Homo sapiens: one gene and its partners. The protein of the gene in region 2 purifies or fractionates together with the protein of the main gene of each other region. This does not show direct contact. Each region holds a gene or a part of one and is shown on either strand. Other genes may lie near its edges.

Region 1 (3,653 bases), on a different chromosome or scaffold from region 2:
ACAAAGCAGCCCCTCACATTTGATTCATAAAGAGATGACTGGAATAACCATTCCACAACAAAAGATGCTTTGGAGCAGCCAGCGCATTACATCATTCTTTACCTTTGCTCCCGCGCTCCAACAGCTTTACACTGGACTGAAAGCCTACGCGGAGAGAGAAAGACAGAAAACAAAACGTGAGGTCAAAAAAAGAAGAAAGAGTGTCAGATTAGAGAGAGTGTATGATTCATAATATTTACTCCATTAATCTAATTCCATACTTGATGCACTGCTTCATTTGAACAAACAAATAAAAAGGACAAATTGGTATGGCTTCAGAAAAATGTGCTAGTGATAATTCCATTTTACCTCAAAATGTAAAAACTCAAAGAAAACAAAACAAGACATATCATGAATTATAATCACCTAGGGCTCAGAACTAAATGACCTGTAGTATTGAATTAAAAGGGCTACAAAAAGCTGCTTGAAGTATTATTATTCCAAATAGTTTTCCTATATTTTATTTGCTTATTTATTGAAATCCCACAAAGAATGGCAGCTGAGGACAAAGTTAGCAATCCTGTGTTACCAGGACAAAAAAAAAAATATTTTCTGAAATGGCTTGAGAATTCCTGCGATGAATGGGTAGGTGTATATGTGTGTATGTGTGTGCACATGTGAGCTCACGCGAGTACCAGGGCGCAAACAGCAGCCTTTTAAAATTGCCCTCACGGAGGAGAGAAGATGCAGGAAAACTGGAGTTTCTATAAATTTCAGCTATCTTTTAAGGAAGAGGAAGGACAAAAACAACTGATATGTTTGTCACAGCAGCTGCTGAGCTAGGCCTGTGAAGTGCTGAAGCTCACAGCCATGGCCCTGTCATGTCTCCTTCCGGAGGCCATCTCCCTACCACCAAGTTGCTTAAGGCCCTGTAAGCTTATCCTTCACTTTTTCCTGCTTCATTCTTCAGAGAATCACTAACTCCTAGTCTTAAAAAAATCTCACCCCTTAACCTGGAACTCTAAGTTGGCAACCCAGACATAGAGAGCCCTTAAAGCTGAACCCAGTGCTTCCCTTTCTTGCCAAACTCCTTTAATCAATCACTTTCTAATTAACACTAGTTGAAGTTTTGCGCTTATTGCTTGGACTTCACCTTGACCTTCAATACTCTCGGATTCCTATCTCCCCTGGTCCATCTCTGCTTATATGAAATCCTCTACTACATAAAACTACATGTCTACTTCTGGCACTGAACTTCTAGAGGGTAAATTTTTTTTTTTTTTGAGACAGGGTCTTGCTCTGTCACCCAGGCTGCAGTGCAGTAGCACAATCTCAGCTCACTGCAACCCCTGCCTCTCAGGCTCAAGTGATTCTCCTGCCTCAGCCTCCCAAGTTGCTGGGACTACAGGCGCGCACCACCACACCCAGCTAATTTTTGTACTTTTTGTAGAGACAGGGTTTCGCCATGTTGCCCAGGCTGGTCTCAAACTCCTGGGCTCAAGCAATCCACCTGTCTCAGCCTCCCAAAGTGCTGGGACTACAGGTATGAGCCACCGCACCCAGCCTAGAGGGTAAATATTTGATTGCAAAAGTTTATTATATTTCTTACTTCTACAGTACTTTGGACATAACATACTCAATATATTATTATAGTAGGTAAATTCTTCCTTGTTCCAAAAACAGTTTAAGATTCTAAATAAATATTTGATTAGCTGATTTCAGGTCAGGATGTCAGAGCCTTTAAAAACCTTTAGATCATGTTTCCTAATTTTGTACTTACAAATTAGAAGCTAAAGCATGGAGACAGAAGGTGGAGCATGATATAAAGAGATGTAGCTTTGCCATTTACTTATGCAACCTTGGACAAATCACATAACCTCTCTAAACCACAGTTTCTTCACCTACAAAATGGAGACATTATAGTGGCCTCATCTCTTCAAATTTGGTCTGAGAACAAAATTATCTAATTTATTGAAAGCTGGTAAATAAAAAAGCAACTATGCATCATAGACAGGAGGAAAAATACCCTACAGATGCCAATGGCAAACAAAGCTGGCTTGCATCTGGCATCTGAAAGACATCACTCACAGATAAAAACAGATGTAATTCCATCCTCCTATAGTACAGCTGCAACCAAACTGTGCCCTTTCTCACAGAGGCTGACACACAGGGAGTTAGAAGGCACCTGAGATACTGTCTCAACCACACCATATTTTACAAACCAGCTCCATTTAATACATTATATTTCCATTTCTTATTTTCCAAGAAACAACTTTCATTAATGTATTATTTTTAGCATAGCTTTATGGTAATGAAGTACAAAAGTCATCTCTATTTTCAACTGAAGGAACTATAAGAGAGAATTTGTCCTAGTCAATCCACTAATAAACTTCTGCAAAGCGCCTACCAAAGCCATACCACTCAATCAGGTTCTGCCTGCTCAGTGACAGAGTTCACGGCAATGTAAGGTCCTGTATTCAGATTGTCTGATTCCCAAACCAGGGCTTCTACTACTGGGTTGCCCTGTTTTCCCTAAGTACTTGTTCCCATAATGGAACTGGACTGGGAAAGAATGATGCCAATTGTCCATGAGGGTACCCAGGTGGCACAGAAAGTGGAAATCCGAGAACAAGAGCAAGTTGATTCCAACAATGGCACTGGGTCTCTGAGTCTGATTGGCTCCTCTCAAAGAGATAAAATCCGGATGGGACAAAGCAGTTATCTGGGTTAGCAGATCAAGGGACAAAAGGAGGGAGAAGTCAGCAAACATGCAAAAGTTGAATTAGAAAGTTCTCATCTTTGCTTCCCCTCAGCCAATTCTCATAAACCCAAAGACAGGTTACAACAAACAGTTCTACAGAGCAGAGAATGTCATTCTTGCCCAGAGAATCAGAGCTTAGTTACAGATATAAAAAGACCCTTTCCCTGACCAAGAAAGGCTCTGGTCAAAGTGACTCTAAGCTGAGGATGTAAGTGAAGCATAGGGGTAAAAGTGAAGTGAGGGTGAAGTTCCATTCTTTCAGTGCTGTACTGAGGCCAGCTGGAGTCCTCCTGGTAGGACTTCATGCCCAAGGTCTAATTCTCTGTAGTGCTAAATGGGTGAGGTGAGAGGCAGAGCCCTGCCAAGGGATCATGGAGGGTAAAGTAACAATGGCCTTAATCTCTTTCATTTACAGTTAGAGAATTTTGGTTAAATCTCCATCACTGGCTATGAGTCTAATTTTAAAAATTTCTCTGTAGTTACTGTTTTGTTTTCAAAATCCTTTGCATTAGGTAAGATTTGAAAGATGACAAGAGAATATTTTGCTTGCAACATCACCAAGCTAATCTTACCCAGAATTTCTATAAGTCAAGGGGAATAAAAATTTTTACAATGAACCACAAAGGCTCAAGTCCATAGAACAAAATCCAGAGCAGACCAGCTTTGCTATTTATCTATTTATTTAGCCAGCTGCTAAAGTTGAAATACTTTCTTTAGATTTTTAAATAGGTAATATATTCATATGGTTCAAAAAAAGTCTAAAAATGTATACATAGTATGAACGTGTACAGTTTATTGTGTCACTTATACATCAATAAAGGTGTTTAAAATTGCCACGATATTGAAACTTCAGCAAATACATTTAAATAAAAAAAAACTAAATATATTCATAATCCTTCTTCTACCATTATCC
Region 2 (3,653 bases):
AACTCCTGTTTTATTGATTTAAGCCAATAACATTTTTTTGTCTAAATTGTTAATGTTTTTCCTTGCCTCCTTATTCATTTTACCTATCTGTGCTATTAAATGAGAAATATCACTGTGATATCCAGTTGAAAATCATGCTTCTTAATTATTACCTGAACTTGTATTAGTTAATTGATGACTAGAAATAGGAAAGTTCATTAAACTATTCATTTGCTCGGGGACTTAGCAGTAAGAAAATATTTGTATGTGTTCATTCTCCTTTTTGTCTGAATAGCTTTTGAATGTAGAAGTAATATTTCTGATGATGATACGCATTTCTGTTGTATTTTGCTATTTAGACCCTTTATAAAACACAAGTTAGGGAGCTTAAAGAAGAATGTGAAGAAAAGACCAAACTTGGTAAAGAATTGCAGCAGAAGAAACAGGAATTACAGGATGAACGGTAAGTATGAGACCCTTGTCTCTTTTTGTTCATAGCTGTATACTTTGCTCCTAGAACAATGCCTGGTAATCACCAAATAAAAAATTATTGATGAAGTGAATTAGACAAAAACTTTCACTTCATAGTGAAAACTGAACCATTAAAATGATATATTGCTAAAATGTAGGGACTCTTTGGCTGCCCAACTGGAGATCACCTTGACCAAAGCAGATTCTGAGCAACTGGCTCGTTCAATTGCTGAAGAACAATATTCTGATTTGGAAAAAGAGAAGATCATGAAAGAGCTGGAGATCAAAGAGATGATGGCTAGACACAAACAGGAACTTACGGAAAAAGATGCTACAATTGCTTCTGTAAGTCAAATTCTTGGTGCTTTTTTGGATTATAGTTAAATTGCTATATCTTAAACCTTCTTTAGACATACTAAGTATCACAGATCTAAATGAAAAATTATATATGCTGACTACAAGATTTTTAATCTAGTTAACTGCCACCTTCTCAATGTTGTCAGAGGAGCTTACTAAAAGTGACTTCACCTGTTAATGAATTCAAAGTTAAAGGTCTAAAGTGAAAGGGTCATTTTTTTTTTTCTTTTTAAACAGAACTTAGTTCAGAAGAATCTTGAAACTACCAGGAAAACAGTTCCGTGCAGGTTGAAAAAATTGCAATAAAAATTTCAGAGAGAGGTCAAATATCAAGTAGTTAGGTTTACCCTATCAATTAACTAGACCTATTGAAATGCTGCGGTAATTAAAAAGTCTGGTATTAGAACAGGGATATTCAATCCTGTTCAGTGGAAATGAAAAGGGAGGCCAGAAAGATTTCTGCACATACAGGAACTTGGTATATATGATGGGAGTGGCAGTACACAAATCACTGGGAAAGGACACATTTCATAAATGGTTTCAGAATAACTGTGTTTTTATATGGAAAGGAATAAAATTAAATCCCCACTACATCACACACAAAAGTAAATTCTAGCTATCTTAAGGACTATGAAAAATAAAAATTTTAAGCTATCAGAACAGAATCTAAAAGTTGCATATGACAGAAGACAGCATAAACAAATGACAGAAGGGAGATATTTGTAATATATTTATTAAACAAGGGATTTGTATCTAGAGTATATGTAGAATGTCTGCAATTCAGTAAGATAAGATTAAAGAATTTGGAAGAAAACTTAGCTGAAAGAGAAAACCTAAATATATAAGCATGTACTTAACCTCACTATTGTTCAGGAAAAGCCTAGGTAAAACAACTTTGAAATACCATTTCATACCCATCACTTTGGCAGAAATTCAGTAGCTGACAATTTCAAGTGTCTGAAGAATGTCTAGAAAATGGCATTCTTATTCACTATGGGTAGTATAAATTTAGTATGGCATAGTACAGTAAGTAGTATGACAGTTTCCAGTAAATTTTAGGCATTCACATAATGCAGTCAGAAGAAAGTCCACATTAAGATAAATACACTATAGAAATTTAGGCACAATGCTTATAGCAGCATAAATATTTAGCAAAAACTCAAATGTCCATGAATGAATGAATGCATGCATTAAATGTAATAGAAGATGGAACTATTACATCAGATCTTCATTTGTATCAGCAATTTAATGCCTTAATATGCTATTGAGTGAAAACAATTACAGAAAGATAAATTCAGTAAGATAGAAAATCGCAGCCTGGCATGGTGGCTCATGCCTGTAATTGCAGCACTTTTGGAGTTGAAGGTGGGAGTATTGCTTGAGCTCCAGGAGTTTGAGACCAGCCTAGGCAACATAGTGAGACCCTGTTTCTACCAAAAAAAAAAAAAAATTTTTTTTATCCAGGTGTGGTGGTTCATGCCTATAGTCCCAGCTAGCTACTCATGGGGGCTGAGGTGGGAGGATCCTTAGAGCCTTGGAGGCTGAGGCTACAGTGAGTGGTGATCGCACGCCATTGCACTCCAGCCTGGGCAACAGAGCTTGAGACCTTGTCTCCAAAAAGAGAGAAAAAAAAAAAAGAAAATCACATAAAGCCACACTGTGTATTGTTTCATGTGTATATAATGAAATACAGTCATGGGTGGAAAGGCAAAACACGTAATTTACAGTAAAACTTCCTTCAGGCCAGGTGTGTTGGCTTATGCCTGTAAGTAATCCCAGCACTTTGAGAGGCCTAGGCGGGCGATCACTCGAGGCCAGGAGTTTGAGACCAGCCTGACCAACATAGTGAAACCCCATCTCTACTAAAACTATAAAAATTAGCCAGGTGTGGTGGCGCATGCCTGTAATCCCAGCTACTAAGGAGGCTGAGGCAGGAGAATCACTTGAACCCAGGAGGCGGAGGTTGCAGTGAGCTGAGATTGCGCCACTGCACTCCTGGTTGACAGAGCAAGACTCACCTGGGTGACAGAGCAAGACTCTGTCTCAAAAAAAAAAAAAAAAGAAAAATAAGAGGTTTAACAATATTCTAGGATGTTTCTCATTTGAATCATTTTATAACATAAATTGTGTAAATTGGGATGTGATTATTTTTTCCTCTTTCATTTCTTAGCTTGAGGAAACTAATAGGACACTAACTAGTGATGTTGCCAATCTTGCAAATGAGAAAGAAGAATTAAATAACAAATTGAAAGATGTTCAAGAGCGTATGTATTAACAAAAAATGTTTATTTTTAATATACCTAATGTTTATCAGCTGCTGTAATTACCAATGTAATTTTAACTTTTTTCCATGTTTCAGAACTGTCAAGATTGAAAGATGAAGAAATAAGCGCAGCAGCTATTAAAGCACAGTTTGAGAAGCAGCTATTAACAGAAAGAACACTCAAAACTCAAGTATGTATAATAGAATCTAAATATGATTTTGAATTTTGTCTCAGTTTATCTCTTTTACATTTTACTTCTAGCATTACAAATTGGTAGCAGTAGTCATCGAATGTACCAATATTTGTGAAGTCACAATTACCTGATTTTTGCCAGGTTGAGAGAAGTTAGATTTGATTAATATTGTTAAATTCTATAGCAACTAAAATTTTTCTTAATATTTCCTTTTGGAATCACATTCTCTTTCAATTTATTGTTGTAATTTAATGTGTTTTTCTACTTTTAAGAACTGTTGGGATTGACCATTTGCTGACAACCTGAAAAGTGTCAGTTAGTTCACTCTCTGCCAACTCCTACAGTTGCATATGTACTGCATGAACAGGTGGGGTACTAGATACTCTTCA
Region 3 (3,653 bases), on a different chromosome or scaffold from region 2:
TTTACAGAATGACGTCTATGTGTTTCTCCAAAAATGGATCTGCGATTCTCTCCTGAGAGCAGGAATGGGATGATTTATCACGTGGCTAAGTGTACCAGGGCTGCTCCATTTGAGTCTGGCATCGAGTAACATGTCAGTGACGGAGGCCAAGGGGGCCACTGTGGAACACTACCATCTTTATGTCCAGAAACATGACGCCACACGCACTGAAAAGACCCACTTCATGGTGGAAAACTGCATTATAAATAGAAATGGTGCTGCGATGAAAACATCCGTGGTATATAATTATACTCAATTTGGGATGACCTTTGTAACCACCATGACACATACACTCCTCTAACATAAGTGGTCCTGACAACTACAAAATCAGCTGTTTACTTCTTCAACCAAAACGTCAACTTTTAAACAACACTCAGGCCATCCCCGACCTACAAGAGCCCAACTAGGGACAGGGTTGTAGGGGTGAGGAGGCCTGGTGTGGCCCCACCAGGGAGGAGGGGTTGGTGGCCCCACTGGTTTTTCCAAATCCAAACTCCTGGCCTTCAGGCATGACTTCTACCTGAAGAGGATGACACGGGCACTCTCGTCCAGTGCAGACCTCCTGCCGCAGCCCCAGGCTCATGGTTGGAACTGCCACTGGACACTGCCACCTACACAGCCGAAAGCCTTGAAGATCAACACCTTGAAAACCAAGCTCATCCCTTTCCTCGAGCTCTGGCCCCGCCCCTGTGCTGGGTACCATCCTCCACCAGATATGCGGGAATCAGACTCGCCTCGGACCCTCCCTCCCTCTCCGCGCTGCACAGCGGCTGGACTCCTTATGCTGGCTTTCTCCTCCTCGCCATCGCACAGTCACGGCTGCAGCATGAGGGAACGCATCATCTTTAAAGGCCTAATAGAGCAGCTTCCCACCTCCAGCACACGTGCATGCCGGTCATTTTCCTACAACTCCAATCTGCACAGAGCCTCCATGGGCTCCCTGTCAATATGGGATACAGTTCCTAATCCTTGGCCAGCTGCCCACAGACTCTCAACTCCAGCTCCTCTCTCACTCTCAGGGATCCTACACCACACCCTGACCTGTCTCCCACTGTGTTCCCCCAGCCCCAGCTCTGGCCCTGCAGAAATGCCGGCTGATTCTCGGGTTGTGCCTCTCCTGGTGCAGCCCCTCAGTGGCAGCCCTGCCCAGCCTATCTGTCCAGCACAGATCCCGTCAATCAGCTCCTTAGGGACACTTCTTGCCCATTTGCCCCCACTTCTCTCTAGCAGCCAAGCCCTGCACACATTTCTGCCCCAGCCCCCTGCCATTGGCTTGTGTGTCTTCTCACCATTTGCCTCAGAGACCTGTATGCTTCAGAGGCAGGAAACCGGTCTTATTTTTATTCCCTGGTGGCCTAGAACAGTGCCTGTGACATAACAAGGGCTTCATAAAGCAGAACAAATGAATCTGAAACCTCCTGCTACCTGAGTGAAGGAAGGAAGCCCCTCAGTGCATCAGGACTGCCTAGGCAGGTTACAGCTACAGTCACTGGCCTGATCGCTGCGGATGCCCTCTTGGCTACAGGTCTTCTAGGGGCCTTTACAACGGGTAAAGGAAAATGCCCGGAGCAAGGTCAGGAATAGAATCAGGGCCCCGGGGCCAGCAGTCGAGATTTCATAGCAGAAACATGCCCAGCAGAGTCATTCTTTAAAATGAATGAAGCGGAAAGGAAGGATTCTCTAGAGATTTTTGACACCAAATATTGTCTTGGGATTTGTCTCACATCCATTTCATGTTTTCAAAAGGAAAGCTTTTGTTTGCATTCGCCCCTGAAAGCATGTGAAAGTCGATGAAAAATACGTGTTGAAAACGCAACTGGAGCCAACCATCAGATGACTGTGTCCCCAAACTGTCATTTTGTCCAAAGCATTTGAGGAGGCCTCTGAGGGTGGGGAGGTGGGGGGCCGGGGGCCACGGGCCACTTATGGGGATCCCGACTCCAGCAGGCACCCACCTTGTCAGCCTCGGGCTCAGCTGCCAGCACCGGGGCCTCTGAGGGCGTGACGGTCTCCGTCGCTCCAGTCTCTGTGCGCTGCAGCTGCGACTCCACGTACTCCCTCAGTGACTCCAAATCCCGCTTTCCCTTGTACTGATCCACCTGGCCAAGACACGGGCACGCGGCTGAGTGAGTCCACTGAGGTGTTCTGAATCACTTAAGCCTTCCTGCAACCCCTGCTTGCCCGGGTCAGAGCTCCCAGATGTCTTAGCGGTGGTGCAAAGTCTGCATGTTCATATTTAGACGGGAATGTAGAGAGGATAACTGAATGCCTCGGCTTTGGTGAGAGAACTGTACAGGCCCCTCTTCCCTCCACGGGGTTACACATCACAGAAGTCTGGGGCAGAGGCCTGCCAGCAAGCCGTTGTGCTGATGGGGAACTCTGAGCTGCTGACCATCGGCCAGGGAAGGAGGGAGGGAGGCAGGCAGAACCGGACCAAGTGCAAGCCTTAGCTCTGTTCAAAGGCCTGAAGGTTTGTGTTTACAACCAGAGCACAGTTACCCTGTGACTGTAAGATGTGGGTTATTCTAGTGATAACCTGGGCCACTGAAATGTTTCAAGGTTCATCTCCACAACCCAAATCTTATCAATTAAGAGAAAGACGTTTGTTTCATTATACACATTTCTCCAAACCAGTGCCCTAACAATCAAGATTGGCAATTCACTGTGCCCATTAAACCACTCAGTAGCTCAGCCTGATGGGGTTAAGAGATGAAGAATTCTCAGTACTAAGAAGTGCAGACGTACCTTTTTCCCATCTCGGAACCAGAGAAGAGTGGGATAGCCACGAACCTGGTTTCCGGAGCAGAGTTCATAGTGCTGTGTACAATCAACCTGAGAATAAAAGCAGATCAACTTCCCAGTCAGTTTCTTCATGAACCTTCTTGCTAATGGGGCTACTGGACACTTTGTACGTTACAAATATTCTTTTCAAAATCCACATTCTGTAGCAACTCTGCCAGCAAGGTGCAGTTTTTGAAGAGAATGTTCCTGAAAGCTATGCTAAAACATACCTGAGCTAAAAGGAGTAAAGGAAAGACTTTAGAGGCAAGATTTATTGTATTAATAGCTCAGTTAAACATGCCGGTTTTTAGGAAGCAACATTTTAACTCGAGCAAGTAAAGTCAGCACCTGGTAGCTTGAGTCAGGGCCCTGGCTTGACATTTGGTGGTGGTGGGAGGGGGGTTAGCCTGGCTGTCGGTGACTGGGACCCAGACCAGTTCACATGCCAGCTTAGAATTTACTCTCATGCTGAAGCTTAGAGGGTTTTAAAATCAACAGGGAGCAAGAAGTGAATTTTAAACAGGAGTAGTTGGTATATAATAAAGGTAAGACTGCAAAGATGTCAAGATTATAATCCGTCCTTAATTTTATAAACTTAATTTACCAACAAGCACAGCTCTTCAAGCTTTTTCTTTCATTTAAATCTCATAAAGCTGCTGCTTGCCCAACATTTTCATGAAACATCTTGTTCTAAGTCATTGCTTTCTTTTTTATTTTCTACCAGCACTAAAATAGGCAGGACTAAGTTGTTATTCACTATGTCAGCAAACGGGGGTAAAAATACTATTTCAACACCTAAGACCCGTCAGAGAGCAGCTAAGGTGCGGAACTGA

What was found.
Region 1: the proteins of ROCK2 (region 2) and DUSP16 purify together in Homo sapiens (affinity purification with mass spectrometry; one large-scale study listed by BioGRID and IntAct). This does not show direct contact.
Region 3: the proteins of ROCK2 (region 2) and TXNDC5 fractionate together in Homo sapiens (co-fractionation; one large-scale study listed by BioGRID). This does not show direct contact.

The regions. Positions count from the first base shown.
Region 1 is NC_000012.12:12,521,320-12,524,972, forward strand, and holds part of DUSP16 (dual specificity protein phosphatase 16), read right to left. Parts: intron 145-3,653; 5' UTR 1-144. UniProt on the Homo sapiens protein: Dual specificity protein phosphatase involved in the inactivation of MAP kinases. Dephosphorylates MAPK10 bound to ARRB2.
Region 2 is NC_000002.12:11,198,099-11,201,751, reverse strand, and holds part of ROCK2 (rho-associated protein kinase 2), read left to right. Parts: intron 1-338; coding exon 339-442; intron 443-608; coding exon 609-795; intron 796-2,977; coding exon 2,978-3,071; intron 3,072-3,166; coding exon 3,167-3,261; intron 3,262-3,653. UniProt on the Homo sapiens protein: Protein kinase which is a key regulator of actin cytoskeleton and cell polarity.
Region 3 is NC_000006.12:7,886,711-7,890,363, forward strand, and holds part of TXNDC5 (thioredoxin domain-containing protein 5 isoform 1 precursor), read right to left. Parts: intron 2,872-3,653; coding exon 2,785-2,871; intron 2,139-2,784; coding exon 1,995-2,138; intron 1-1,994. UniProt on the Homo sapiens protein: Protein disulfide isomerase of the endoplasmic reticulum lumen involved in the formation of disulfide bonds in proteins. Can reduce insulin disulfide bonds.